6 separate regions of the Homo sapiens genome follow, and all the other regions are reported to be linked to region 1. Evidence: microRNA targets listed by miRTarBase, many of them from high-throughput screens and not tested one by one. Region 1 holds a microRNA gene; each other region holds the end of a gene's coding sequence.
What was found. Region 1 holds the annotated microRNA hsa-miR-5692a (CAAAUAAUACCACAGUGGGUGU, at 3,675-3,696, shown strand). A microRNA usually pairs through its seed, bases 2 to 8, with sites in the 3' UTR of a target mRNA and lowers its output. Matches are read on the target gene's strand: a 7mer-m8 pairs with bases 2 to 8, a 7mer-A1 pairs with bases 2 to 7 and ends in A, and an 8mer does both.

Region 1 (5,075 bases):
GGGGGATGTCACTCCTTATGTCACAGGTTTTCTACACCCTGTCAAATTCCTTGTATTGTTTTTAGAAGATGTCACTCCTCATATCACAGAGGGTGTACACTCTGTGATAATATCGTCATATTCTAGGGAAATGTTACTTTTAATGTCACAGAGGGTGTACACCTTGTCAAATTTTTCGTTATAGTTTTGTGGGATGTTACTGCTAATGTCACACGGGGTGTACACACGGTGATATTACGTGTCATATTCTCTAGAAATATTACTCGTATGTCACAGGTCCTATACACCCTTTAATATTCTTCATAATATTGTAGGAATAGGTGACTACTAATGTCACAGGGCGAGTCGGACCTGTCATAAAATTCGTAATATCCTTGCGGGAGTTCACTAGTAATTTCACAATGTGTGTACACCCTTTGATATTCTTCGTATTATCCTAAGATGTTACTACTCATGTCCCAATGCAGGTACATTCTCTGATATTCTTCATTATATCCTAGGGGGATGTTACTTCTAATGTCACACGGGGTGTACTCCCTGTGTTCTATTTCGTAATGTCCTAGGACAGTTTTACTTTTAATGACTCAGGGGGTGTACACATTGTGATATGATTCGTGGTATTCTAGAAGGATGTTACTCCTAATGTCACAGGGGTGTAGACCCTGTGAAAGTATTCATAATTTTCCAGGGGTCTATACTCCTAATGTCACAGAAGATAACACCCAGTGACATTATTCATAATATTCTAGCGAGATGATACTCCTAATGTCACAGGGGGTGTACACCCTGTGATATTATTCTAAGTATTCTCGGGGGATGTTACTCTTAATGTCACACGTGTGTTCCTTCTGTGATATTATTGAAAATATGCTAGCTGGATATTACTACTAATGTCACAATGCGTGTACACCTTGTGATATTATTAGTAATATTCTGGGGGGATGTTACCCCTAACGTTACAGGGGTGTACACCATGTGATATTGTTCCCAATATTGTAGGGGGATGTTACTCCTAATGTCACGGGAGCTGTACACCCTTCGATATTATTTGTAATCTTATAGAGAGATATTACTTAAAGTATCATAGTGGGTGTACACACATGGGGTACACCCACTGGGATATTATTTCTAATATCTTCGAGAGACATAACTCCTAATATCACAGTGGGCGTACCCCATGTGTTTACACCTGTGATATTCTTTGTAATATCCATGGTAAACATGACTGCTAGTATCCCACAGAGGGTACACCCTGTGATATTATTCACCATATCTGAGGGAGGTATAACTTTTAATATCACAGTGGGTGTACAAACTGTGATATTATTTGTCATATCGTAGAAGTATATTATTCCTATTGTCACAGGGGTTTCACATCCTGTGAAATTATTTGTAGTCATCCAGGGGGATGATTATCGTAAAGTCGCAGGGTGTGTACACCCTGTGATATTCTTCTTCATATTCTAGGGGGATGTGACTCCTCATGTTGCAAATGTGTACACGCTGTGATATTATTCACCATCTACTAGCTGGCTATTGTTACTAATGTCACAATGTGTGTACACCTTGTGATGTTATTCATAATATCCTAAGGGGATGTTCCTCCTGTTGTCACAGGGGCTGCGCTTTCTGTGCTATGATTTGTAGTATCCCAGGGGATGTTACTCCTACCATACAAATTGGGTACACTTTGTTATATTATTCGTAATATCCTAGAGTGATGTTACCCTTCATATCACGGGGGTGTTCCTCCTGTGATGTTATTCTTCACATTCTAGGAAGATGTGAACCCCTAATATCACAGAGCGTGTACAATCTGTGAAGTTATTCATAATAGTTTTGGGGGATGTTACTCCTAATGTCACACTTGGTGTATAAACCGTGATATGATTTGTCAAGCTTTTTTGGATATGTTAGTCCTAATCTCACAGGGGCTGTACACCCCGTGATATTATTCATAATATCTTAAAGAAATATTACCACTAATATCACAGGTGGTGTACACCCTGTGGTATTATTCCCGATGTTGTAGGGTGATGTTACTCCTAATGTTACAGATGGTATTCACATTCTGATAATACTCGTCATACCCTAAAGGGATGTTACTACTGATGTCACAATGCACGTACACAATCTGATATTATTTCTTATATCCTCGGGCAATGTTGCTTCTAATGTCACATGGGGTGTACACTTTTTGATTTTATTCGTCATATTTTAGAAAGATGTTACTCCTAATGTCACAGAGGGTGTACGCCCTGTGAAGTTATTCATAATAATTTTGGAGGCTGGGACTCCTAATGTCACCCGTGGTGTACAAACAGTGATATTATTCGTAATATTTTATGGAAATGTTACTCCAAATGTCGCAGGGGCCTTACACCTTGTAATATTATTCATCATAACCTAATGAAATGTTACCTCTAATGTCACAGGGGGTGTACACCGTATGATATGGTGCCCAATATTGTAGGGGGATGTTACTCCTAATATTACAGGGGGCGTTCACACTGTGATAATATTCGTAATATCCTAAATGGATGTTAATGCTAGTGACACGACGCGTGTACATCCTCTGTATTTGTTCGTTATATCCTCGGGGGAGGTTTCTCCTACTGTCACATGGGGTGTACTCTCTGTGATATTATTCAGAATATCCTAGGTGGATGTTACTCCTCGTGTCACAGGGGCTGTGCATTCATTTTGTGATGTTATTCACAATGTCCTAGAAGGATGTTACTCCTCAGGTCACAGGGGATGTACACCCTGTGATATTATTCATACTATCCTAGGGGATGTTACTCCAAATGTCACAGAAGGTGTACACTCTGTGATATTACTTGCAATGTGCCAGGGAAATGTACTCCTAATGTCACAGGGCATGTGCACCATGTGTGCACAGCCCCTGTGATGTTATTTGTAATATTCTTGAGGGATGTTAATCCTAATATTCCATATGCTGTTAACCATGTGTGAACACCTTTGTGGTATTATTCCTAACATACTAGAAAGATGTAACTCCTAACATCACGTGGGGTATAGGCCATGTGCGTACACCTTCTGTGATATTATTCATAACATCGTAGGGAGATGCTACTCCTAATTTTACAAGGTGCGTACATTATGTGTGTACACCCCCTCTGATGGTATTCGTAATATTCTAGGGGAATGTTGCTGCTAATGTCACAGGGAGAGTACACCATGTGTATGCAACCCTGGTAATATTATTTCTAATATCTTGGGGGGGTGTTGCTCCTAATGTCACCTGGAGTGTACAGCATGTGTGTACACCTTCTGTGATATTCATAAATCACAGAAAAAGATTACGCCTAATGTAACAGGATGTGTACACCGTGTGCATCAACCGCCTTTGATATTATTCGTAATATACTAGGGGGCTGTGACTTTGAATGTCACAAAGAGTGTACAAAATGTCACAGGGTGTGTATGCCTCATGATATGATTCCTGATATCCAGAAGGATGTTACTCCTAAGGTCACGGGGGTGCACACACTTCGATAATATTTGTAGTCTTATAGGGAGATTTTACTGTAAATCTCACAGTGGGTGTACACTATGTACACTATGTGTAGACTGTGATATTATTTGTAATATCTCAGATACTACAGAGTTATAGCTCTCCGTGTTATATTAGAATTATATCTAAGACAGTACAAATAATACCACAGTGGGTGTACCTCATGTGTGTACACCCTGTGATATTATTTGTAATATCCATGGTAAACATTACATCTAATATCACAGAGAGTGTTCTCCCTTTGATATTTCTCATACTCTCATAGGGAGATATTGCTTTTAATGTCGCAGTGGGTGTACACCATGCGTGTACATTCTGTGATACACCTTATATCCTAGGGAGATATCTCTCCGAATATCAGTGTGTGTACGCCTTGTGATATTCTTCATATCCTAGAAGGATGTTACTCCTAATAAGACAGAGGGCGTACACCCAGTGATGTTCTTTGTAATATCCTAGGGAGATGTTACTCCTAATGTCACACGGGGTGTACACCCATGATATTATTCCTAATATTCTAGGGGGATGTTACTTTTAAAGTCACAGGGGGCGTACACCCTGTGAGGTTGTTCGTAATATCCTAAGAAGATGTTGCTCTTAATGTCACATGGGGTGTACACCCTGTGATATTACTCGGAATATCTTATGGGGATGCTACTCCTAACGTCACAGGCTGTGTACACCCTGTGATGCTATTCGGAATAGCCACAGAGATGTTACTTTTGATGTCACAGACAGGGTCCACCCTTTGATTTTTTTATCATCTTAGGGAGATATGACTTCAAATATCACAGTGGGTGTACACCCACTGTGATGTTATTCGGAATACCCTAGGGAGATATAACTTTTAATATCACCGTGGGCGTACATACTATTTGTGTACACCTACTGTGATATTATTCCTAATATCCTAAAAATAAATAGGACTCCTAATATCACAGTTGGTGTACACACTGTGATATGAGTCGTAATATTCCAACAGGATGTTACTCCTCAGGTCACAGGTGGTTAATACCCTGGGACAGTATTCCTCATATTCCAGGGCGCTGATACTCCTAAAGTCACAGGGTGTGTACCCCCTGTGATATTATTCCTCCTATTCAAGGGGGATGTTACTCCTAATGTCACAGGGATGTACACCCTGTGATATTATTCATAGTATACCAGAGGGATATTAGTACGAATGTCACAATGCGTGTACATCTTGGCATATCATTCGTATTATCCTAATGTCACAGGGGGTGTGTTCCCTGTGACATTATTCCTAATATCCTAGACGGCTATTTCTCCTAACATTACAGGGTGTGTACACCTTGTCATATCATTCATAATATCCTAAAACTACGTTATTCCTCATGTCACAGAGGGTGTTCACCTTGTGATATTATTCGTAATTGTTTTGTGGGATGTTACTCCTAATGTCATACAGGGTGTACACAGAGTCACACAGTGCTATGACGTGTAATATTATATAGAAATGTTACTCGTAAATCACAGGGGCTGTACCTCCTGTGATATTATTCGTCATATTCTAGGG
Region 2 (5,075 bases), not on the chromosome of region 1:
GCAAGACCTTCAGTCACAGGTCATACCTTGTATGCCATCATAGAGTTCATAGTGGTGAGAAACCTTACAAGTGTAATGAGTGCAGCAAGACCTTCAGTCGCAGGTCATCCCTTCATTGCCATCGTAGACTTCATAGTGGTGAGAAACCTTACAAGTGTAATGAGTGTGGCAATACCTTCCGTCACTGCTCATCCCTTATATACCATCGTAGACTTCATACTGGAGAGAAATCTTACAAATGTACAATTTGTGACAAGGCTTTCGTGCGTAATTCACTCCTGTCAAGACATACCAGAATTCACACTGCAGAGAAACCTTACAAGTGTAATGAATGTGGGAAGGCTTTTAATCAACAATCACACCTTTCACGTCATCATAGAATTCATACTGGAGAGAAACCTTAGAAATGTGAAGCATGTGACAAAGTTTCCATTTGGAAATCACACCTTAAAGACATAGGAGAATTTATACTGGAGAGAAAGCTTACAAATGTAAGGTTTCTGACAAGACTTGGGAGTGATTCACACCTGGAACAACATACTGGACTTCACACTGGAGAGAAACCTTACAAGTGTAATGAGTGTGGCAAAGCCTTTGGCAAGCAGTCAACACTTATTCACCATCAGGCAATTCATGGTGTAGGGAAACTTGACTAATGTAATGATTGTCACAAAGTCTTCAGTAATGCTACAACGATTACAAATCATTGGAGAATCCATAATGAAGAGAGATCTTACAAGTGTAATAAATGTGGCAAATTTTTCAGAGATCGTTCACATATTGCAGGTCATCGGTGAACTCATACTGGAGAGAAACCTTACAAATGTCATGACTGTGCCAAGGTCTTCAGTCAAGCTTCATCCTATGCAAAACATAGGAGAATTTATACAGGAGAGAAACCTCACAAGTGTGATGATTGTGGCAAAGCCTTTGCTTCACGTTCACACGTCATTAGACATCAGAGAATCTATACTGGACAGAAATCTTACAAATGTCATCAGTGTGGCAAGGTCTTCAGTCCAAGATCACTCCATGCAGAACATCAGAAAATTCATTTTTGAGATAACCGTTCCCAATGAAATGAGTATAGCAAACCATCAAGCATTAATTGACATTGGAGTCAATTCAGCATTGACTTGAGTTTGTGTTGACTTAACATTGAGTTCAAGCCTTTATTGACATTCAAGTGTTTATGTTAAGAGGATGGGGCCAGGTGTGGTGGCTCCGACCTGTAATCCCAGCACGTCGGGAGGCCAAGGCACATAGGTCACTTGAGGTCAGGAGTTTGAAACCAGCATGGCCAACAGATGTGAGCCACTTTTCTCAGCCTGTTTTTTGTTTCTTATTTTCTATTATTTTTTTGAGCCAGTACTTTTTAAAGAGATAGTACTTTTTTCAGTTAGTACTTTTTGAAAGGGATATATCATAGTAATTTTTAAAAGGGATATGAGGCCAGGCACGGAGGCTCATGCCTATAATCCCAGCACTTTGGGAGGCCGAGGCAGGCAGATCACGGGGTCAGGAGATCGAGACTTTCCTGGCTAACAGGGTGAATCCCTGTCTCTACTAAAAATACAAAAAATTAGCTGGGCATGGTGGCTGGCGCCTGTAGTCCCAGCTACTCCAGATGCTGAGGCAGGAGAATGGCATGAACCTGTGAGGCGGAGCTTGCAGGGAGTCGAGATCGCACCACTGGGCTCCAGCCTGGGCGACAGAGTGAGAGTCTATCTCAAAAAAAAAAAAAAAAAAAAGGATATCAAAGCCTCGGTACGTGGTGGCTCATCCCTGCAATCAGAGTACTTTGGTCGACCCATGTGAACTGGTCACCTAAGGTCACAATTTCAAAAGCACCCTAACATGGTGAAACCCCATCTCTACTAAAAATACAAAAGTTAGCCGGGGGTGTTGGTGTGCACCTTTAGTTCCAGCTACTTGGGAGGCTGGGGCATGAGAATTGCTTAAACCTAGGAGGTAGAAGTTGCAGTGAACCAAAATTGTGCCACTATACTGCAGCCTGGGTGGCAGAGTGAGTCTCCATCTCAAACAAACAAAAAATAACAAAAAAAGACCTCAAAAATGCTTTTCTTCTCGTATAATGGACTTCCTTCTTTTTCTTTCTGGTTCCTCTTCATTTCTCTCTTTATTTTTTATTTATTTATTTATTTATTTTGCAGTTTGAGTTTGAGATAAATCTAAGTTATAAAAGTTGTATTTCTTAATACATAATGACTTCTGAAAGATGCCTTTGCAGCATCCTATAATCAGCTCACATCATTCGTTTCTGTACTTGTATATTTTCCAGTTATTTTCCGGTTGACCCCAGAATTCGTTAGATTTTTTTAAAAAACAATTTCAAAATAGTTGCTGTTTTAAATTAGTTGCATCCAGTTCATATCAATGTCTGCATGCTTTCTAGTCTTTGTTATTTATTGAAAACCTTTGGTACCTAAACTTAAGTTTGATTGTTTCAGTGTGTACTTGGTAAATATGTCAGTGGCCTTTTAACTAAACATCAAAATGTACTTTAACCAGTTAGTCTGTTTTTCAGTTTTCTTTCCTTATGTCCTTTGTTAAAATCTTGATCTGGGAGCTATTTATTGCGTGTTTCCCTCAAGGCCCTCTGGTCCATTCTGGAAAAATGTTGAAACATGGGCTGGATTGGCATAGAACGCTCCTCCAAAAGCACCCGTGTATTCTTTTCTTTTCTTTTTTGAAATGGAATCTTGCTCTGTCGCCTTGGATGGAGGGCAGTGGTGCAATCTCAGCTCACTGCAACCTCTGCCTCCTGGGATCAAGTGATGCTCCTGCCTCAGTCTCCTGAGTAGCTGGAATTACAGGCACCCACCAGCATGCCTGGCTAATTTTTGTATTTTTAGTAGAGACGGGGTTTCATCACGTTTGTCAGGCTGGTCTCAAATCCTGACCTTGTGATCCACCCGACTTGGCCTCCCAATGTGATGAGATTACAGGTGTGAGCCACTGCTCCCAGCCTCGGTTTTTTTTTTGTTTTTCTTTTTGTTTTTTTGGGGGTTTTTTTTTGAGATGGAGTTTTGCTCTTGTTGCCCAGGCTGGACTGCAATGGTGCGATCTGGTGTCACTACAACGTCTGCCTCCTGGGTTCAAGTGATTCTCCTGCCTCAGCCTACCAAGTAGTTGGGATTACAGGTGCCCTCCACCACTCCTGGCTAGGTTTTTGCATTGTCAGTAGAGACAGGCTCTCACTGTGTTGGCCAGGCTGGTCTCAAACTACTGACTTCTGGTGATCTGCCCACCTCGACCTCCCAAAGTGCTGGGATTACAGGCGTGAGCCACCGTGCCTGACCACTCATGTATTCTTGATTGAAACAATTTGCTTATGTCTTAGTTGTACACCTGACCTTCTTTCCCTGTTTCCAAGGTCAATAGCTATGTGTTCACAACTCTGCATTTTATAAATGTTACTGTGATTTTCTTGTAAGGAAGAACAAACTGTCAGGAGTCAATGGCCTCAGAACCTTGCAAAAGAAGTTTGTTTCTTTTTTTTCTTTTCTTTTTTTTTTTTGGAGACGGAGTTTCGCTCTTGTCCCCCAGGCTTGAGTGCAGTGGCACGATCTCGGCTCACTGCAACCTCCGTCTCCCGGGTTCAAGTGATTCTCCTTCCTTAGCCTCCCAAGTACCTGGGATTAGAGGCATGCACTACCACTCCTAGCTAATTTTGTATTTTTATAGAGACGGGGTTTCTCCGTGTTGGTCAGGCTGGCCTCAAACTCCTGACCTCAGGTGATCCACCCGCCTCAGCCTCCCAAAGTGCTGGGATTACAGGCTTGAGCCACCGTGCCCGGCAAAAGAAATTTCTTTAGCCCAGGTTTGTGAAAGAGCCTTCTCTAATTTTCCAGGATGGGGGTGATAAGATCAACCCTTCCCATTAGTCCCTGCAGGCCCCCATGTAAGAATTCAGGCACACCTCACTCATCTCAGACCTTCTCAGGGCAACTTGGTGAAAATGTCTTCCAATCTGAGCCCCAGTGAGCCTCCTTGGAACTTGGCGATGAGGGGCTACACCAGAAAAGCTCAACCCTAGTGACTTTGACCCCTGAAATGATTGACAAAATGGAGTGCGTGTGTGGGTGTGGCTTTTTTTTTAAATTTTTTTGAGGAGAGGAGTGCCCAGTTGTGATTAGAATTTTCAATGGGATGCAGTGCCCTAAAAATGAAAAACAAAAGCAGAAGAATGGAAGAAACAGAGGTAGACTCAGACACAGAGACCATCTTCGGGGCCTTTCTCTGTATGAGGACATCACAACAAAATCTAAAGCAGGTCATGTCAGTCCCTGACAGGGAACCCTCCACCAGCTTCCCGTGTTCCCCAGGACAAAAGCCCAACCCCTCACTGTGGCTCCACAGCCCTGTGTCCAGGGCCCCTTCCACTGTCCAGCCTCCTCCTGGGAGCTTGCCCTCATCTCATGACTCTCTCCGCCCCAGTCATATTTGCTTTTCTCTTTTCCCAAACATCAAAACCCTTCCTGTCTCAGGTCGTTGTCCCTGGTTTTACCCTACGTACCCTGTCACTTTCTCCTCCTTCAGGTCTAGGCTCAGAGCTGTCGCCCATGCCCTCCCACCCCCGGCTGTAGTTCCCTTGTCCATCAGTCTGTATCACGTTACTCAGGATTCATTGTCTGCATCAATCACATCAGAAATGCATTTTTTTTTTTTTTTTTTTTTTGAGACAGAGTCACTCTATCTTTCAGCCTATGAGTGCAGCCTCTTGATCTTGGCTCACTGCAACCTCTGTCTGCTGGGTTCAAGCAATTCTGGTGCCTCAGCCTCCCAAGTAGCTGGTGTGTCTGCCACCACACCCGGCTAATTTTTGTATTTTAACTTCCATTTTATATTATTTTTGAGTCTGTCTGTCACCAAGACTGGAGTGTAGTGGCGCCATCTCGGCTCACTGCGACCTCCACCTCCCGGGTTCAAGCAATTCTCCTACCTCAGTCTCCTGAATAGCAGAGATTACAGACACTTACCAAGCCCGGCTACTTTTTGTGTATTTAGTAGAGACAGCGTTTCACCATGTTGGCCAGGCTGGTCTCGATCTC
Region 3 (5,075 bases), not on the chromosome of region 1:
TGGCTATTACCCTGATGATAATGGTATATATAATCAGAAATTTCCATTTAAAACACTTGCCATGGTTACATCATTCTTAACCAACATTTGCATCTCCTATCTAGCCAAGTATCTATTTGAAAGTGGAACCTTGCCACCTAAATTAGATGTATTTGATGCTGTTGTTGCAAGACACAGTGAAGAAAACATGGATAAGACAATTCTTGTCAAAAATGAAAATATTAAATTAGATGAACTTGCACTTGTGAAGCCACGACAGAGCATGACCCTCAGCTCAACTTTCACCAATAAAGAGGCCTTCCTTGATGTTGATTCCAGTCCAGAAGGGTCTGGGACTGAAGATAATTTACAGTGACCCCATCTAAATAAAATACTGCTTTTGCAAACAGAACACTGTAATAGGGTAGTTCTGGAGAGATGGTATGCAGCATACAAAAATATATTAAAAATATAAACAATGTTCAGGAGAGTAAAAATTCATATAAAGTGCAATTGCACAAATACAAGCCAAGCTAGAAGGAAGCACCTATGAAAGCAACAACTTTGTTTCTCATCCATAGTAGTATTGATTTTGATGCTAGATAGTTTTGCTAGGTATAAAAAATAAGTAAAGTTCCACTTAGAGAACAAAGGGCCAAATAGAGTTTTTATATTTGTTATGATAAAAGGAAGTAGATGTGAAAAAGCCTAAGAAAAAGGAAATTGGACAGTTTTGATACAAACTTTGTTTGCTAATGCACTGATGAGTCTAGTTTCATTATAGCACGAAGCTATGAGAATAACTTCAGTCACTCCCTTGAATGGTGCAATGAATTAACCAGCTGATTTTTCTTAGTGTGATGATTAACCCCTTCTTTCATGTTCTGAGCTATAACATTTGCTGAATATGCAATTTGTTATTCTTTTATTAATGGCATGTAATATTCTGAGCACGGGCAAAGAAAACACACAAAAGATTATGTATTGGCATTTATTTATGTGCAAGGTGATAGGAAAACTGAATCCATCTTTGTAGAAGAGCACTGGGCTAATTTGTATGTTTCCATAGCTACTATATGCATAAACAACAGTACCTGAAGGATTATTAAGCAACCTTAAAGCAATAAGTTCATTAAACAGAAGGTAATAGGAAGAACAGTACATTTTTGTCTTTATCTCAAGTATATAAAGTTTTGCCCCATGATAAAATAAGTAACATATAAATTAATACATAAGTTAATATTGGAAGTGAAATTAGGCCTTATGTAAGGAGAGGTAGCTACACAGCATCTGTTACGGTTAATGAGAGGCACACTGCTAAATTTACGTATATTTCATTGAATACTTTATGGGAAGCCTCCACAACACCTCCTGATAGTAGTAAAATTAGAAAAAAACAAACTCTACTAATTTTTAGATATTCATTAATAGGAAAGATTTAATGTTACAGCATCTACTCTTTGGCACTTTTTCACATAAGCCAGCCTTAGAGACTAGACAAATAACTACTGCAAAAAGTACATAGTGAATTTTAAAATGTAGAAGAAAGCAAAAAATAAAATAAGTCCTAAAGTGAAGAAGCCATCAATTTTAACATTTGATGTCTAGATAACATTCATGAGATTGGTCATTAAATACTATTTTGCTCCTTTTCTGGTGTTACACATACACACTCATACGTGTGTGTGTGTGTATGTGTGTGTGTGTATGTGTAATGATTTGTGTCCATTTCAAGTGTTTTCACACCAGTCACACATTATAGAAATTACTGGAGCCATGTCTACAAAAGCAAAGTGAAGTGATGAGCTGAAAAGTGATCAGGGAATCTGATCCCATAAAGAAAGTGAGTCTGAATTGTTGAAACTAAAGCACTTCTTTTCCAAAAATACTTCTGCAACTCATGAACAAAATGAAGTTAACTTAGTGTTTAGCATTAAAAATAAAAGTTGTACCTTGACCCTAGAATTCCTTTTATAAGATTTAATTGTAATTGTCTCAAAGCATCAAATAATACATCTTTATCATTAAACATGAATTTAATGTCTAGGATAATTTTTAAAAGAGGAAATTAAATAATTTTACATGTCTCATATTTTCAGTGCTTTCTCAAAATTTGATGGTGAATATTACATTGCATTCAAAATCTTCACTGAATATCATATGTATCTAAATGAAAAGAGAATTACTTATATTCATCTATTTTCTCAGAATCTATTCAGTACCCTATGGAGTACATGGAAGAAGTATATTTTTGGAACCAGTAAGTATGGGAGTCCACGATTCTCAGGTATTGATTGAAAAAAGAGAAAGGGGCAAGAAATTCATTAAAGAAAAACCACAGATACTGAAACATTTGACACATAAAAGTAATTAATTGCTGGAGACTACAATTCCTGGCAAACACCATTATTCCAGATGCACCATGCTACCCAGCATGCTACCTGAATGGCGGTTTTTATCCATCCTGTCACCCTGAGCATCTGTCTCAACCTGCTGAGGCACAGACTTCCACCATGTGCATCAGGAAACACCTCACTCATACTGTCATATAATGCAACAGGGAGGCATAGTCTCTCTACAGGTCTCTCTCTTTACGTTGTACCATTCTGTTGGGCAACAATTGTCCCAACAACCACACTTAAATCCAGTGGGGAAAAAAAGGTTAACAGTAAAAATTTCTTCCACGTAATTCAATTTCTCACAATAGACAGAAACAGGGGGAAAATGTTTGCCCTGTTCAAAGTACTAAAACTAGATAACTTAAATAATTTAAGCCAATAAATAATATTATATTGTATTTAACCCATTATTCCTCACCTACCCTCAAAGTAGGTATACAAAAGACTAGTTTGTTATTAATCCACAAATATGCTAAATGTTAGCAAGATGATTTTTAAGTACAAAAAAGTTTAAGATTGCAAGGAAGGAAACAATGGTCACAAGGTCTTTACTTATGCACATTTGTGCATAAATTTCCACCCAATTTCCAAGACAGTTGTATCACAAAGCTGTGAAATGTGCAAGAGTATACTTTGTACCCATCATGTGCTCTGTTTTGACATAATGAGTAATGCAGACATTTACATGTTCTTCCAGCTTCAATCAGTAGACCTGATTTTCAAAATCTGCCCTCAGATGAAAATAAAATAAACGAAACATTTAGACAATGGCTATATTAATCTGGGAAGGCAACACCTGTGGATAAAACATTAGAAGAAAACATATATTTTATTTTCATACTTTTGATATGATTGTAACATATTTCTTGAGTAATTTAAATGCTTTGTTTTCCCACACATATTCAAATCAGCAAGCTTGTAGCTGGACTGCAATATCAACAACAAGTTGTTTCAAACAGCATCAAAATACAACTTCATTGCTACACTTACAAGTAATGAATTTTATGTGACTATGAAACGAATATAAGCTTAAAATAAGTGAATCTAATAAAATGGCTATTCCTCTTTTTACTTGGAAATAATAAATTAACATTATATTTTAAACATAAATTATGATTTCTTTTTCTGTTTTAGCCTTCATGTAAATTTACACTGGTATGATGTGTAATTTATTGTACGTTTGCTACTTCATAGACAGATGCATATAATGGTTCTAGAACATATATTTTTGTCTGTCAAATTATTATATAAAATTATGCTTAAAATAAGTATATTTGCAACTGTGTAAATGCTTTAAGTGTAATGGCAATGTATTAAATTGTGCTGGTCAATTTAGGGTATCATTGTCTAAATTTGGCTTTTGGGGGCCCTCTCTTAAACTAAGTATATATGGTGCTTCAAGACAATTATGCAATGAAATCAAAATAAACCATCTCATTACTGGAGGATAGGCAAATGCCAAGTGGAAATGCTGCACCTCACGTAAGTCTTGGGGCAATATATATCATAGCTCAAAAACAAATGTAAATTGTTTTTCTTGGAAAAGACATTCTACCATTGTACACAGGTCTTTTGTAAATCAAAGAAATCAATAGAATAATATCCATTAAGAGTCTCATGCTTACTGACTGAGTCAGCCAGGTGATTCCAATTATATTCGTTCCAATCACATAAAGAAGATCTGCATTTTTCAAACCAAACAGCTGACCAACAGTTGTTGTATGAAGTCAATCTCTAAGTGACAAGTGGCTGTCATTGTGCTCCAACTATGTGCTCTGTATCTCTCATCTTACTCTCTCAAGATGTCTTTAGACATGTAGTTATATACATTCTCAGAAGAACTTTGGCCTTTCATACCTTAATTATAATAAGCATTAGTGCCTTTGGATGTATATAGGGCAGAAGGGCCTATAATGAGTGTAGGGACGAATGAAGGAAAGAATAAGTAGGTATGCCAGGGCAACATCACATCGAGTTGTCGTCTTGTGGACACACTTCTGGAGATTATACATTTTTGCTTTATCACAAATCTATAGTGTGGGGGGAATTATTAAGAGCCAGAAAAGAGACTGTATCAGAATATAATATTAGGGCCCGTGGACGTTATCTTCATTTTAACCATTGTATCTAGAGAGCTTAAATTTGATCATTAACATTCTCCTAGAACAGACATTCTTGAGAGAGATCCAGAAAGCTATGGGATAATGATAATTATGGTTTCTCCAATTTTTATACTGTCACCTCAAGAAAAGTTACAAAACAGTAAAAACAGTCATTGTATCTTATTTAAATTCTCTAAAGTCAGAGAATATGTGGTGATTCTGCCTTTATTTTTGGTTGGAAAACTATAGTTATCTATTTAAAAGAGATATTGCATTATGTATTTTGAAGCCAAACTGCTGTGTTGATTTATCAGTTTGTCATATAGAGGCAGTTAAAAGCATAAACCAGGTAAGACTAAAAGTCCAGTGATAGAATTTAGAGCAGTAGGTATTACTGAAAGAAGTAATTGAAAACAGCTTCTGATAGTGCAGTGCCACACGTGGAGCTGAAGAGAATACAGTAGAAGGATGGGGCCAGGAATCACGCTCTTTTGGGTTCTGAAAATGGACGGAGCTGGGAGAATTATTGAAACTCTCTGGATCTCTTTTATTTTTGTAAGTCTTCTTTTTTTTTTTTTTTTTATTATACTCTAAG
Region 4 (5,075 bases), not on the chromosome of region 1:
CCGCTGTGCTTCTGAGCAGTTGCTTTGTTCAGAAGTGTTAGGAGGGTCAGATTGTGCCATAATTGTTATTAAAGAGAAAACACGCCCACCTTCCTTTCTCCCCTGCTGGCCATTGTTCATTGAGTTTTACTGAGGGCAGCCTTTGTGGAAGTCAGGGAGGTTGCCAAAGGCCTGTAGATGCCTCCTGACAAGGTCTTGATTCCTGGTTTTCTAGCACCCATTTGCATTTTGGTCTTCAGCACAAAGCCTTGTTCCCTGTGGCCGGACTTCTGGGCAATAAGACTGGGGAGTGACTGTTGAGCAGTCTGCTGTCAGGAGAGATGGCTGAAAAGGTGATCATCTTGGTGCTAAACAAGTAAGAGGCAACTGCCCTGTTTTTGTTTGTTTTGAGGCACAATGAAACTTTAGCCAAACTCTGCAAGAGGGTCCCATCTCCTGCCATGGCCAGGTGTGAGAGACCAAACCGAGAAAACAGCATACTCTATCACTTAAGCCTTGGGTAGAATGGGAATTCTTTACCCTGGGTAAACGTTTTAACAAAAAAATGGAACTTAACTTCGGTTTGGACTGTGGTCGTGCTGAGGCAGGAGTGGGGTTGCCCTCTTGGGGCTGAATCTCCAGGCCTCACGAGGTCCCCTGTGGGGATGCTGCTATTTCTAAGATGCAAATTGCACATTTCCTAGATTTTGTATCTGTGGATTTGGATAAGGGAGGGGAACACGGACAAATTGCTTGTACAATTTGAAATGGGCCTCAATGGTACTTCAAACCTTTTGATTATTCCTAAATAAAAACATAAATATATTTCACATCTGCTGACTTATTTTGTGGGGGAGTCAGGAAAAAAGCCAAAAACATTTCACTTGTTCTTGCCCACTTCTGTGGATCTTAAACTCCAGTGGATGAGTGGGGCAGTTTCCCTCAGCTCACCAGAGAAGTTCCAACTCACTGTCTTCTGCATTGCTGAGATCACCACACTGGCTTCTACATGAGAAAACTATGATATTTTAGAAATTATGCTAAATAGACAAAGGCAAACAGTCAAACCTGGTATCATCTGGTGAGAGGACACTGGCAAGTTCTTTTCTGTTTCCTGTGAGAGTGCTGAAAAGCATAGCCTGTCATTTGCTGGGGCGGTGTCGGGGGTTAGGGAATATGCATAAGGACCCAGGGGCTTTCTGGAGGAAAAAGACTAAAGCCCCAGCTTCTAAGACCCAAAGCATTTGAATTTTGTTGGGGTGGCCCTGAAGGCCTGGGACAGAAGGAAAAAGGGTCCTTTGAAATGAAATCACCTACAGTGGAGCCAGGCAGTGATTCTGGACACCAGAATAGGAGTCCAGCTTATGTCATGGGGAAGCAGCTGTGTGTGTTGAATCCCAAAAACCAGGTCCTTGGAAACTAGACCAAACTGGCATGCAACTGGCAAAGCCAATCAGCTGAATGCTGTAGTGGGTAGACTCAGGCAGTGACTCACTTGGGATACTATGGGTGGAATTCGCAGGAGCGGCCAGCCAGGGGGGTTGCTGTGGGGTTCCTCCAGGCAGGGAACAGAATGCCTAGATTAACCCCTAAGCACAAGTCCCCTGGGAATTACTAAAGTACCCAGAGAAGACAGGAGTTGCAGTCTGAGACTGTGCTTGATCCATTTAATTAAAATGTGAAGAAGGCATGATCCTTTCATTCACCGAGTTAGTCTGGTGGGATAACCTGAACCTATTTGCTTTCTACCCACCCTCAACAGAACTCACATGGTGAGTGATGGGCTCAAGTTGAAAGACAAGTGAGTGTCTAGGTCCTTAGTGATGTTCAAGCTCTCAGGTGATGTTCAAGATGTGCTTGGTCAGGAGGCAGACCCCTGCCTTTTCTGCTCATGGCCACAGATACTCAACTGAGGTCAGAAACTGCTCCTGCCATCTTCCCGCAGGGCAGTCTTTAGTCCTGTGGCGGGGGCAGAATGCCCCTGACCTTGTAGGCTCTACTTTGTATGTGTACATGTCTGCTGAGCCAAAGCTGTTGAAAGTGAAAGGTCTGTCACTTTGAACCCAGTCTACTTGTCCCTGGTCTGTCAGCCAGAAGGTTCTACTGGTGATGGCAGGAGAACAAGGAGCCTGCAAGGGAGCCCATCTACCTTCTGGTACCACTGACTTCCCTCTCCCGGCCCTGCCTGCTCTTTTGGTTTGTGCTGCCAAAATCAGGGTTTTTCAACCCTTGTTACTCATTTAAATCACCTTGAGAGGTTTTGAACAATACCTATGCTAAGGCCCCGGGTACCAGTATTTTTCAGAAGCTCCCCAAGTGGTGCTAATGTGCTGTTAGGGTTGAGACTCCACAGGTCATAACCCTGAGCTGTCGCACTGTAGGGACACGGCCTGCATGCATGGGATGGGGCAAACAACTCCTGATGCCAAAGCATTCGGCCCCAAGTAAGGGTCTTCCCCACCAACAAACACTCTGCCTTCTGGGTCAATCAACATTTGTCAGGTCTGGAGGAATCTTGAAGTGAAAATGATCTTTAAATTTGCTTGAGAGTTGGCACGTTTTCCACTAGGAAGAACAATCAAAACATTTGCAGTGAGGCAAAGGCAATGTCTTACAGAGCCCAAGAGAGGTGAGCCTCAGGTCTACAAAGCTGCCTTAAGAAAGGCAGAGCTGTCTGTTCCCCAGGTTGTGTTCCAGAAAGACACTTGTTCAGCAAATAGAGATACGTATTGATGAAAACTAAAAGGGTCAACACTAACAAACACGCCAAGGACGTCCTAACCAACGTGGATGGGCCCTAACAGAAGGGCCTACACAGTCCTCTTCCTTCTCTGATAGGAAACCTTTCTCTCCAGGCCATAAAAACCTAGAGAGGAAACATGGATCATGAGGGCCCAGGTGAATTCCCACCCACCACCTTCTTGTGTATGGGAAAAAGCCACCCTCCTCTCTATGAACTGGGACTGTGAAGCTGTAAAAGAAAGTCACACAAGAACCTGAGCACTATCGCTGTTTGATACTGGCTATCATCAGTTCATGTCATCCACGGAACCGGATCTATCTTAAATTTTTTGTGTGGCGTCATTTTTGTTCCATCCCAGCACAGCCAACTATGGAAACAGAGCTTCAGGAAGAGAAGGGCCTTTCAACTGTGTTGAAAGGGCCCAGAGATTTCAGCTGCCAAGTCCTAGAGGCAATCAGAATGGCACCTGGCAGTGTTAACGAACTGAATGCAACATTTTTGAAAGGAGAGGTTTCTGTGGAACTGGAAAGGGGCTCTGGTTGTTTCCAGCTCACCACCAAAACTGGCTGGCCACAAAGAACCCAGGCAGGATGTACTCTGCTCAGACACACCCTCAGAGGGTGGGCAGGAGAGAGTGGACCCACAACTCCTGTTAGCCCAGAGGAGGGGTTACAGCTCTTGCTGCTTAACCTGAGAAATTTCCAGAAATTTCCTACCTGCTTCTACTGCAGAATAATCATCTGGCGACTGTTTCTAGTGAGCATGTCCCATGCAACAGGCTTTCCTGAGCCCCCGAAAGAGCATACAAGTCAAAGGAAAAAGGACATGAGGATGATTTATTTGGCAGTCAGATCTTAAGAGGGCAGCAGAACTAGCAAATGGCCAACCCTGAGCCCAAATGTGGGCAGTAGGTTTGTGTGTGCTGAATGCTGGCTATGCTATGAGGCACCTTTGCGCCCACGGGCCTGGACCCCGGCCTCTGTCCTCAGAGGTGAGGGCTGCCTTTCTAACCTTCCCATCTCCATCCCTGGATCTTTTTACCAGTTAGAAGCTGCAGCAAGGATGGCAGCTTCATTCAGCACCTAACTGCCTGTACCCCACCCACCCAGGAGTCAGGCAACTCCTCAATCCCTTTTTCATTCCTCAGGGAAAGCATACTGAGTCTTCTTTGACTTAAAAACAAAAAACCTCACCAAAATAGGCTCTGCTATTTCTTCTCTTCCCACCCTGGCCCGCCCCCCATTCCTGACAGTGCCTTACATCACAAACTAAGTCCTCTTAACACAGCAGGCAGCCCACCTGCCACTCTCCTCTCCAAGGTTTCCCTACAGGGGTGAGGAGCAGGAGGAGTAAATAACTTAGTTACAATACCATTGAGACGAAAAATAATACTGCTATTTTTAACATGATCCCCTGTATCTTTCAGGCTGGGTCATGTTCCCAGCCATGGGCAATGTGCCCTTGTGCTGTGTCCTCCTCCTCAGGCAGGGCAGAACCCTTCTCCATGCAGGCCCTACATTCCTCTGCCCTGGCTCCAGGGCCAAACTGCAGGGGCATCTAGCTTCTCACCCTGCCCAGCTGTGGTTTTAAAGCTACAGGACAATGTAAACTTTGTTTCCCTGGCCCAGCAAGGCTCCTCCTCCTCCTCCACTCTTAGGAATGTCAGTAGCTCCTTGGAGTCTCCTGTGCCACTGGCTGAGGCAGCCTCTCTCTCCAAGGGGCTTCGGCCATGGTCCTGGCCCCACAAGATGGAAGGATCCATCTCCAGAAGTCAGGGCCAGATGTGTGTGCTTAATGCGAAACACAGTACAGTTTTTGCCTTCATCCAGAGCTGGGGCATGGAGGCCCAAAACAGTAATAACATCTCATTAATGGCTTGGTTTCTGTCTAGCATTCACTGCTGGAATCCAGGCTTCAGGCTGCGAGACCCGGAAGGCCGCCACAGGGGGCTGCTTCCAAAGAACCCAGTTCGCGGCATTCTACAAGGCGCACAGCACCTGCTGCTCTCCAACGAGGCTGGGGTACAACTAGAGGCGGTTGTCTCCATTGACCCGAGTCCTTCTTGGGGCCCTGGACAGAAGGGAAGAGTGTCCTTACTGGCAGGCAGGGCCTTGCAGCCCAATGCCAGACAATATTACAACTTTTCTACCCAGGAGAAAGAAACACTGAAGAAGGAGGACCTAGCCACTGCCTTCCTGGCTCTAGCACCCCTCCATCTTCCTCACCTTCGTTCTCGACTGTCAAAATGGTCTGCGAGATGCTCCTGGGAGATGCGGAAGTCCTCAAACGGCTGCTGGTAGCGGGATTCAAAGGAGCCTTCCCGGGCTCGGCCATGAAACAGCTGGCCTGAGGC
Region 5 (5,075 bases), not on the chromosome of region 1:
TGGAATCACTTGGGAGACCAAGGCAGGTGGATCACTTGAGGTCAGGAATTCGAGACCAGCCTGGCCAAAATGGTGAAACCCTGACTCCACTAAAAATACAAAAATTAGCCGGGCGTTGTGGCACCCACCTGCAGTCCCAGCTACTCAGGAGCCTGAGGCAGGAGAATCACTTGAACCCAGGAGGCAGAGGCTGCAGTGAGCAGAGATCATGCCACTGCACTCCAGCTTGGGTGACCGAGTCAGACTCTGTCTCAAAACAACAAATGCCAACTCCTGAGGAGGGTCTAACCTGGCCACTCTAGCTAAAATGGCATGTATCCCCCATTCCCACTTTTTTTTTTCTTTCTGCTTTCTATCATTTCTAACATATTAAGTCATTTACTTATTGTCTCCCCTACTATAAAGCTCATAAGCTCTTTGCAGGAGGGACTTTTGTCTGTTCTGCCCACTGCTTTATCTCCAGTGCTTTCAACAGGGCTTGGCACATAATTAGGTGCTCAATAAATGCATTTGTTGAGTGTCTTATAAAACTCAGCTTGAGGGTCTGATGGGAGAAGGGAGAATTTAAGTAGGAGACTGGTTTAGCAGTTCAGGAAGGTGAGTGGGTGGGGTGCACAGAGGCAAATAAATAACACAGGCTGAGACTTTGTCACAGACATTTCTTGGAGCAGATCTCGTGCCCCCTCCCCCGATGACAAGGCTGGGTCTTTGGCCCCCATCCTCCCCCACCACTTCAGCCTGCACTGACACTAACAATATTGAGGTCACAGACTGGCTTAGAAACAAGATCAGGAAGATATATGTTGGGGTGCCTCCCCCAAATCTGGGGGCCAAGCATCCGATCTGAGGGGCAAGCGGCTGGGAAATTGGGCCTGGGGGCTCCAGGGTCTGAGGTCTGCCTGGCTCCCAGGGCGGCCCTCCATGTACCCCTGATTTGGGGGCAATGAAGGGGAATCATGGATCAGAGGTGGGTCTCAGCAGGGAGCAGGACTGGGGGACCTGGGAGAGGCGCTGCTGGGAAGTGGCGGCCAGGGGACCTTTCCTTAGCCCCCACCGCTTCATCTGCAGATCCCACAGCACCGTACAGCACTCTGGTCCCCCGTCCCACCCCTCCCCAAAACGAGGTAGGTTAAGAATGGAGCTTCCCCCCCGCCCACCATGGAAGGGGGGAGACCGAGGCACAGAGAGGGGCATGGGGACCCAGGCTGCCCCAGCCCCCAATCCCTCCGCCCTCAGCTCTGGTGGGTCTGACAGTGATGAGAGCTGGGCAGAGTGGGGAGGGGAGAGACACCCCCGCTTTTCTCTCACCCATCCCAGGGTCTGGTTGGGAGTGCTGAATCTCACAGGTTCCGGATGTAATAAATAGTTAATAATTTAAAGGAAGAGACAGAGGACCTATCCCTTGAACCCCAACAAGGCCATCCAAGTCTGGGTAATGAAGAAAGGTTAAGTGCACAGTTCCAGATGCTTGGGGCCAGATGCAGGTCCCAAGCCCATACAACATTGAGACTGTCTTGCTCCAAGACCTTGAGGCCCCCATACAGGACACCAGATCTTCGATCCACTGGAAGCCCCATTTCACTTGGGGGAAAAAAGCCTGTGGCACCCCCCTTTGCACAGAAGAGACTCAGTGGGCCATGAAACAGGCTTTCAAACTTCCTGAAGCAACTTCTCACTCTAAAGTGGAAGAGAGCCAGGTGCAGTGGCTCATGCCTGTAATCCCAGCACTTTGGGAGGCTGAGGCAGGTGGATCATGAGGTCAGGAGTTTGAGACCATCCTGGCCAACATGGTGAAACCCTGTCTCTACTCAAAATACAAAAAATTAGCTGGGTGTGGTGGCACATGCCTGTTATCCCAGCTACTCGGGAGGCTGAGGCAGACGAATGGCTTGAACCCGGGAGGGGGAGGTTGTGGTGAGCCGAGATTGTGCCACTGCACTCCAGCCTGGGTGATACAGCGAGACTCTGTCTCAAAATAAATAAATAAATAAATAAATAAATAGGAAGAGAAGGGGTTAATGGAGGGGGAGAACATAAAAGGTGGGACTTGAACCTGGACTAGGAATTAAGGTTGTGCTTGAAGGAAGGTCTGCAAGACTGGGGGCTGTGGGACAGCAGAGCCATAACTAGCCTGAAAGTTTCCATTGCACACACTTCTTCTGAGGGCACAGTGTGGCCAGCAGACTGGTGTGACTTCCAGCTCCTCGAAACCCTGGGCTGTGTGCCTTCACTTAATGAAGACCCTGCATAATCATCTGTGACAATGCTGGGTCCTAGACGTGACAGTGAGGGAGCTCCTACTTGGTCCTTTTTTTTTTTTTTTAGAGACGGTCTCACTACATTGCCCAGGCTGGTCTCAAACTCCTGGCCTTAAGCGATCCTCCTCCCTTGGCCTCCCAAAGTGCTGGGATTACAAGGCATGAGCCACTGTGCCCCACCCTGGGTGGTCCTACAATGAGTTCCAAATGGTAGGGATCCCACCCTAAGATAAAGGGGTAATTCTGAGGATTGCTGGGGGCTTGGGCTGGGATCCTTGGGACCAGAATTCCAGAGGCTGGAACCTTGGGGTTTTAGGGGCCTATGGATGACAGGATTCAAGGGGCAGCAGGTCTCTGAGGTCCGACAAGTGGGGATGGGGGAATCAGGTGTAGAGGCAACTTGGGGTTCATCAGACTAGAGAGGTTTGAATCCAAAGAAATCTGGGGTCTGAGGGTGCTGGGGTCTTGGGGCACCTCGAATCTGAACGCCTCTGGTATGGAGGGATGAAGGTCTTGGATCAGGAACAATCCCAATGTTGTAGGGTCTTGAGCCTTGCATTTGGGGGTCAGTGGCACCTTTGGGGTATTGGATCCAGTGCTCCTAAAGTACCTTAGGGTCACTCAAGGGCTGAGGGCCAAGGGCATCAGAGGTCTGGGTCACCATGAGCATCCCCTCTTCTGGGAGCTGGACTCCCAGCCCTTAAGGGGTTGGGAATCTGTGGGTAGAAAGAAGCTGAAGATTCCAGGACATTTGGGGTCTCAAAATCCAGGTCCAGGAGGGACTGCAAGAGAGGGCTATTTGAGAACTCGAGACCAGTATCTCGGGTCCTGAGGTGTTGGTGGCCTTCAGTCGCACATCTGAGGACCCCAGGCACCTCTGAGTCCTATAAATGATATCCAAAGCTCCTGAGAACCCTGGCTTGGGGGTGGGTGGACCTATGGAGGTCTTTGATCCCTGGCTTCCAGAGCATCTTGGTGTCTGATATCTGGATCTTGGGGGCTCTGGGATGGGTCTCCCAAGTCATTTTGGTAAGAGAACAGCTCGTGTTTCAGTATATCCGAGCACTCAGTGCATCTTAAGAGTCTGGGGTCCCAGGGTGTCTGGGAGTTCCCTGGACATCTTAGACTTCAGTGTTCCCGGACTGGAGGCCAGGTCTGTGGGCACTAAGTCGTGGGTAGATTTGAGGGGCAGCATCTGGAGATTCCAGAGCATAACAGAGTTTCAAACTCTGTTTGAAACTTTCTCAGGGGTCCTGCTGTCTCAGGGGTCCTGGGACTATGAGAATGTCTCAGATGTGGGGGCACCAGGTCTTAGGTGAATATTCAGGAACTGTTTGTGGGTGACTCCAGGTCCTATGGTCTCAAGATCTGATCTGGGAGTTGAATAAAGGCAGAGCCAGTTATGGGCAAGTCCTGACTAATTGTGGGGCTGTAATCTGAGGGACATGGTGCCAGGCGTGACCGGGTTCTAGGTTGTTCATTTCAACAGGGACCTGCCCTTTTCGGGATCTATGTGCTCCCTGGCCTTTCTGAGATGCAAAGTATGGGGACGCCTGGAGCCTCCTCGTGGGGTGTGGGGGTGGGGGAACGCCAGAACTCAGGACGCCTGGGACTTCTTAGACAGACACCCCAATGAAGCTGGGGCTGGGGTCTCTCAGTCCTAGGTTTGGGTTCCAGGTTCCAGGTCTGAGATCTCTCAATCCAAACTCAAGCTCCAAGTTCCGGATGTGCCTAGGTTTGGGTTTTAGGTCCGAACGGAGTCCGGGGTCCTGGACCCTCAATTTTGGGTCCTCGGGCCGGCTAGGGGACCCACCAGGCCGTCCTCACCGCGCAGCCTCCTCGTGGCGACCCCCGCAGCCGGCGCAGCCGCATCGCGCTGCGACCCAGTGGCACGCGCGCAGGGGCGCGTAGCAGCAGAGGCAGGGCACTGCCAGGGAGAGCGCGGCCAGCGCGGCCCAGCGCGCGGCGGGGCGCGGGTGGCCCGGCTCGCAGGCGCACGGGTCCGAGAAGTCGCCCTCGGCGTCCGACAGGCAGTGGTAGAGCAAGCTCTCGGCGCACCACAGGCAGCTTAGACGGCGCACCAGGAGGCGACCCGGGTCCGGGGCCTCTGCGCAGCGGCCGCCACGCCCGTCTGCTCTGCGACGGAAGAGCGCGCGGCAATGCACGCAGCGCGCTGCCTCCTCCGCTTCCGGGGAGGCCTTGGCAGGCGCAGAGGATGGGCCCGGGCCGGGGGGTGGGCGAGCGGGGGGCGCTGGGGGCGCAGCCTCGGTCAAAGGGGCAGGTAGTGCCGCTGGGGGACCCAGGGCAGCGCCCCTCAACGCGCCGGTCTTGGCGAAGCGCACGACGCAGGTGGACAGGGCGAGGGGCGCGGGTGGCCCGGAGCGCCGGTAATCCTCGTAGCCGCGGCCGCCCCACCCCAGGCCCCCTGCCCCTGCCAGGGGCTCTGAGGGTTCCGGAATCCCCGTGAACGGTAGAAGCGGAGGGTAGCTCTGCGGAACGAAGGGACAAACAGATCAGAATCCATCCCAGTCTTAGCCTCAAGGATCCAGTTCCCTAGCGCACTCTTGGGTCTGGGATTCAGATTTTCAAGACCCCAGCTTGCTTCTCTCCCAAGGTCCCTCAATCCCCACTTTTCTCCAGGGACAGACAGAGGAATCCACGCACCAACCCCACACCTTTAAGGACCCAGAGGCCGAAGGTTCCTAGTCCTGTCCTCTCTTAAGATCCAAGAGCCCCAGCTCCCAGCCCCCTCTACCTTGAGATCCAGGGGTTCTGGACCCAGCCACCTCCTCCTTAAAGGCGCAGGAGTTTGGTTCC
Region 6 (5,075 bases), not on the chromosome of region 1:
ATTTTCAAAGATTTTTTATTTTCAAAAAGACAGAGATGGAGTCTCACTACGATGCCCAGGCTGGTCTCGAACTCTTGGCGTCAAGTGATTCTCCCACCTCGGCCTCCCAAAATGCTAGGATTAGAGGCATGGGCCACCACGTCCAGCTTTTTGTACGATTTTGATGGAGGGAAAAATGGGAAAACCCCTCAGATTCATTTCATGGCAGGTTGGTGCCATCTTCAGAGATCACCAAGCCTGTATTTGTAAGAGGAGGAGATAGAGACCCAGAGAGGCAAAGAGACTCATACTGAGCGAGGGTCTGGGATCTAGGACCCTGACTCTGGGTTCTCTGTTCCTCTTCCTACACCCCAGGCAGTGTCAACATCTAATCCCCCACCCCCGCCCAATCATCCACTGCTTTCTCACCCCCTCTGAGCGCCTAGGGACTTTCTCCCTCTGCTCCACTGACAACAGCCTAAGAGGCTTTTCCGTTTATTTCATCGACTTGTTAATGATTTTCAGATCTTCAGTTACTCAGGCCAGCCCCTGAAGCAATGCTGGACTTGGAAACTTGTGACCCTGGCTGGCTCCAGTCCACTGCTGGTAAAGCCTTCCCTAGGTTAATAGCTCTGTGTAAGGGGCTCTGGGCTGTCTGGGCAAGAGGTCACTAGGGCAACACCTGACCTTTGTTTAGGACCCCAAGTCAAAGCCTCGACCTCCCCACCCCATCCTGTCCTTTCCACAGGCATACCATGCCCCTCCTCCAGCAAACCTATTATTCCTCCATTCAACAGCCTCTGTCCCTTCATCCAGAAAGGACAACCTGGTAAACAGGAAAGGGTTTATCTCAACCTTGCAGATACCCCGCAAAAACCGTGACGACCTAAGAGTAAGGAACTCAGCTTTGGGCTTCCAGTTCAAGATGGTGGCCTGAGCACATGTGTCTGTCTTATTTCCCTCTGGGGTTCACTGTAAAAAGAAGCTACAGTTCAGAAGCCACAGGTTGGTGGGAATGCCCTGGGAAGAGCTGTCCTGCTCAATAGGCCAGCACCTCCGGACTCACAGGAAAGACCCTGGACAGCTGTGGGAAGGGCTATGGCTTTTCTGTATGTCAATCAAATGAAAAATAAAACCTGGAGCTTTAGCTCATCTGACCCCTGTGGAAGGGATGAGCTGCTAAATTAGGCAGCTGAGATATTTTGGTACCAAATTACCATGTGTACTTTTTTTTGGTATTTATTATTTTCTATTCTTTCATAAGCTATAAGCTTTAACTACAACCACGAGAAGGTAAGAAGAGCAGATGCCAGGGGCATGCCAGAAAAATGGAAGACTCTACTAATAGCACACTTAAGGTAACAGACTTTTATTACATCTTCTTTTGGAACTTAGAAGACAATATTAGCCTCCTACACTTTTGAGAATTAAAATTTAGCCCACCATCATTTGGCCTTGGTAGTGACATCACTTGGGTACAGTGATGACAGACAGCCTAAGGGGCTGGACCTCAGAAGACTAAAGGTCTAGTCCTGGTCCTTCCACTAATGGGCTATGGTGACCCTGAGCACATTATTCCACTTCTAGGTGATTCAGTTTCCTCATGACTCATAACAGGAAATCATTGGTCTCAACCTTCCTCCAAGGACTAGTGTGTGGAGCTAGAACATGCACCAAGGAAGACTGGGGAACATCAGAGAGAGATAGGACTCAGTACCGTTGACTCAGGTAAAGAGGGAGACAGCAAGAACAGAGTAGAAAGGCAGCATAAAACTGGTGGAACCAAACACAGACTAAGTAAAAAAAAAAAAAAGGTAAGCTTCCCAACGACACCATGTCCCAGGAAAGAAGATCCAGTAAGAAGCAGAGGCCTTTAGCAAGGATGCCAAGACAATTCCGTGGAGAAAGGATATTTTTCTCAATAATCAGCAGTGGGACAAGTGGAGATCCACAAGCAAAAGAATGAAGCTGGACCCCTACATCACATCATATATAAAAATATACTCGAAATGGATCAAAGACCATTGTGAGAACTAAAAGTATAGTTCTTAGAAGAAAACACAGGCATTAATCTTCTTGACCTTGGATTAGGCAATGGTTTTCTAGATATGGCACCAAAAGCACAAGTGACAATAGAAAAAAAATACGTATCTTGGAAATCATCAAAGTTAAAAAGTTTTGTGTCTCAAAGGACACCAACAAGAAACTGAAAACAATCCACAGAAGGGGAGAACATTTTTACCAGTCATATACCTGATAAAAGACTGGCGTCTAGAATATACAAATAGCTCACCCAACTCAATAATAAAAAGAAGGCTCATCCCTGGTAGTCTAGTGGTTAGGAAAACAGAAAACTTAAAAAAAAAAAGACAACTCAATTAAAAATAGGCAAAGGACCTGGATAGACCTTTCTCCAAAGAAATACGCATGGCCCGTAAGCACAGGAAAAGACACTCAGCATCAGTTGCCATCAGGGGAATGCAAATCAAAACCACAAGATAGCATTTCATACTCATTAGGATGCTAAAAGCAAAAAGACAGATAATAGCAAGTGTTGATGAGGATGTAGACAAATTGAAACCTGGATACATTGCTGGTGGGAATGTAAAATGGTACAGCTGCTATAGAAAACAGTCTGGCAGTTTCTCAAAAAGTTAAAACACGGAGTTACTGTAAGACCTAGCAATTCCACTCCTATGTATATTGCTAAAAGAAATGAAAACATATGTCCACACAAAATCTTGTAGAAATATGTTCATAGCAGCATCATTCAGAGTAGCCAAAAAGTAAAAACACACAAATGTCCATCAACTGATGAATCAATAAACAAATGTGGTCTATCTATACAATGAAGTATTATTCAGCAATACAAAAGAATGAAGTACTGATACATCCTCAACTTGGACGGCCCTAGAAAACATTCAGTGGAAGAAGCCAGTCACAAAAGAGATATCACATGATTCCAGATATATGAAATGTCCAGAGTAGGTTAATCTTACATAGAAAGTAGATTCATGGCTGCCTTGGACTGCAGGAGTTAGGAAAGCAGGAGTGACAGACCAAGGGTACGGGGTTTTACTGGGGGTGATGAAAATGTACCAACGTTGACTGTAATTCTGTGAATTGATGGTGGTTCTGTGAATACAATTGGACACTAGCAATGGGTAAACTGAATGGCATGTGAATGACATCTCAATAAAGCTGTTAGTTAACCCACTCCCCGCTTCTCCTCTAAAGAAGGAAGAGGAATCAGGAGCCTGTCCTCACTCTGTTCTGTAGGAATGCCACGGCTATTACCCAACATAATGACTAACAGAGCCCCTTTTATTCCGAGATGTCCTGGTTTATATGATAAATTTATATCGCTACCCTATCACTATGTGCTACCATGCAGGTGACTTTGCCCCTCTGAGCCTTGGTTTCCTCATCTATAAAACAAGTTCTCCCCATTGTAGACCCTGTTTTATTCTGGTAGTCCTTCAGTCTAGCACTTCATTCCACAGAAGCTCCATTTAGAAGCTATGACATCCCATTCAGGTGGTCAGAGGGTTCCCCATGAACCTAAATTAACCAAGAGCTGAAGCCCTGGGCCAGTAGAGATCACTGGATCCCAGGAACCAGAGGCAAGACAAAGACGAATTTCTGAGTCTACCACAGTTACTGACACTCAAATTTCCCGATAGTTAGGCCATTAAGAAAGATGATGCACCCATTCTGATGCAGGCAAAATATCCTAAACATAGCCTCTACAAACAAAGATAAACATGTAAGTGAGGGGCACTCAGAGAAAACACATCGCTCCTGTGGCAAGTTTAGCAGCGGTTCAACAAGGTCTTCTCTAACTTTCTATAAGTCCATCCAAGAGGGCCTGGTATTGTGGTGGTCAAGGTCATCTGATGACACCTAGGAATGGAATACTCATTCCTAATCCTCCTTACCCGTGATTGCCAGGAAATAAAATAGTCTTTTTCTATTACCATCCCCCTAACCTCCCCACAAAGGGCCTCAGAACTAATGTCTCTGAGAAAGGCCGTGCACATACATTGTGGCATCTACCATGCCAATGCGCCAGTGCAGAGACAGGAGCACATCTTTGGGTTCCGCAGCAGCAGATCCTTAGAAACAACGTAGAGAAGAAAGAGGTAGAAGGCACAGAATAGCCCCACTCCCATCAATTCATCCAAGAACAGGAAAGGCGGATGCTCACCAGGGTCACTGAGAAGGGAAGCAAACCTGAAACAGGAGAATGAGGGCAAACTGCTCCCATCAAGTCGGCAGTGCTGGCCATGCAGCCAACTCCCAGAGGAGGAGGTAAAGGTACCAGCTTCCAGGGTGAAGCAGAGCTTTCTCTGGAGGCAGGAGAGTGGTCAGAAGGGACCAATACAGGCAGCACCAAGATACCCAATCAGCTTCCAACTAAGGGATGAGGGATTTCAGAGCAGACGTCTCCACTGTTTGCCCTTTTAGAACGTCAGGGTTGGACCAATAGAAAAGAACAAGGAACCATTCAAAATCTGGAGGCCAAGAGGAAGGGAGAAAGGAGCCACTGGCTTTCTGTACACCGTACTTGGTGTCCACAGGCTTCTGCTGGTTGGTGCTCTGTAGCTTTCACAGACTGGGCAGGGTCCCTCCTGGCCTCAGCTTGCCTGGTGAGGCCACAGCTTACAGTGGGGCAATGTCTACATCCACGGGGATCCACAGGGCTGGGAGCTGGAGACAGGTATGAGGTCCACTGCTGCTCAGAGTCCACATTTCAGGATGATGTGGTAGCCATCATTGCTCTCAGCTGCAAGAGAGAAACACTGGGTGTATTTCACAGGAAAAAAGGTGCAGTGCCACAGTATTGGGGAGTCCCAAAAGGCACGCTGTTAGGGTATCAGCAAAGACCACCAAAATAGGGCTGCATACAGCAAAGCGTGCTGGCAGAAGCAGGGATCTCACATGCCCTGACATCTGCCTCGTTTAGTGTCTTTTTAACAATAGGTCTTTCTACCATAGCCCCAGGCCCAAGGATGAAAACCTACGTTCCAAGGAGGATTTGGACAACTGTGGTTCTCAGGGATATTATGGCCCCCAAGGCCCCAAAGACACTTGGT

Region 2: miRTarBase lists ZNF611 as a target of hsa-miR-5692a. Seed matches in the 3' UTR shown: 7mer-m8 at 1,352-1,358, 7mer-A1 at 2,148-2,154, 7mer-A1 at 2,152-2,158, 7mer-A1 at 2,156-2,162, 7mer-A1 at 2,160-2,166 and 7mer-A1 at 2,423-2,429.
Region 3: the mRNA of SLC5A7 is a reported target of hsa-miR-5692a. Seed matches in the 3' UTR shown: 7mer-A1 at 971-977.
Region 4: the mRNA of PLCG1 is a reported target of hsa-miR-5692a. Seed matches in the 3' UTR shown: 7mer-m8 at 4,106-4,112 and 7mer-A1 at 4,073-4,079.
Region 5: the mRNA of SPRED3 is a reported target of hsa-miR-5692a. Seed matches in the 3' UTR shown: 7mer-A1 at 1,993-1,999, 7mer-A1 at 1,989-1,995, 7mer-A1 at 1,985-1,991, 7mer-A1 at 1,981-1,987 and 7mer-A1 at 1,977-1,983.
Region 6: miRTarBase lists TFCP2L1 as a target of hsa-miR-5692a. The part of its 3' UTR that is shown has no 7-base or 8-base seed match.

The regions. Positions count from the first base shown.
Region 1 is chr7:97,959,991-97,965,065 of GRCh38, forward strand. MIR5692A1 (microRNA 5692a-1) reads left to right here and starts at 3,668; the gene lies at 3,668-3,736. All of the region lies in intron 1 of CZ1P-ASNS (CZ1P-ASNS readthrough), which reads right to left. MIR5692C2 (microRNA 5692c-2) reads right to left here and starts at 4,491; the gene lies at 4,415-4,491.
Region 2 is chr19:52,700,266-52,705,340 of GRCh38, reverse strand. It overlaps ZNF611 (zinc finger protein 611), which reads left to right. Exons shown (of 6, transcript NM_001161499.2): 6 at 1-2,528. The coding sequence ends at 404. Among named protein-coding and RNA genes, the nearest start is that of ZNF611, 32 kb to the left of the region's middle.
Region 3 is chr2:108,010,507-108,015,581 of GRCh38, forward strand. SLC5A7 (solute carrier family 5 member 7) reads left to right here. Exons shown (of 9, transcript NM_021815.5): 9 at 1-3,488. The coding sequence ends at 355. Among named protein-coding and RNA genes, the nearest start is that of SLC5A7, 27 kb to the left of the region's middle.
Region 4 is chr20:41,174,184-41,179,258 of GRCh38, reverse strand. PLCG1 (phospholipase C gamma 1) reads right to left here. Exons shown (of 32, transcript NM_002660.3): 31 at 4,948-5,075; 32 at 1,633-4,792. The coding sequence ends at 4,750. ZHX3 (zinc fingers and homeoboxes 3) reads left to right here. Exons shown (of 4, transcript NM_001384317.1): 4 at 1-804. Among named protein-coding and RNA genes, the nearest start is that of MIR6871, 7.7 kb to the right of the region's middle.
Region 5 is chr19:38,395,152-38,400,226 of GRCh38, reverse strand. SPRED3 (sprouty related EVH1 domain containing 3) reads right to left here. Exons shown (of 6, transcript NM_001394336.1): 6 at 640-4,747. The coding sequence ends at 4,082. Among named protein-coding and RNA genes, the nearest start is that of FAM98C, 5.4 kb to the left of the region's middle. RefSeq lists a silencer at 1-68.
Region 6 is chr2:121,219,623-121,224,697 of GRCh38, forward strand. TFCP2L1 (transcription factor CP2 like 1) reads right to left here. Exons shown (of 15, transcript NM_014553.3): 15 at 1-4,765. The coding sequence ends at 4,719. Among named protein-coding and RNA genes, the nearest start is that of TFCP2L1, 63 kb to the right of the region's middle.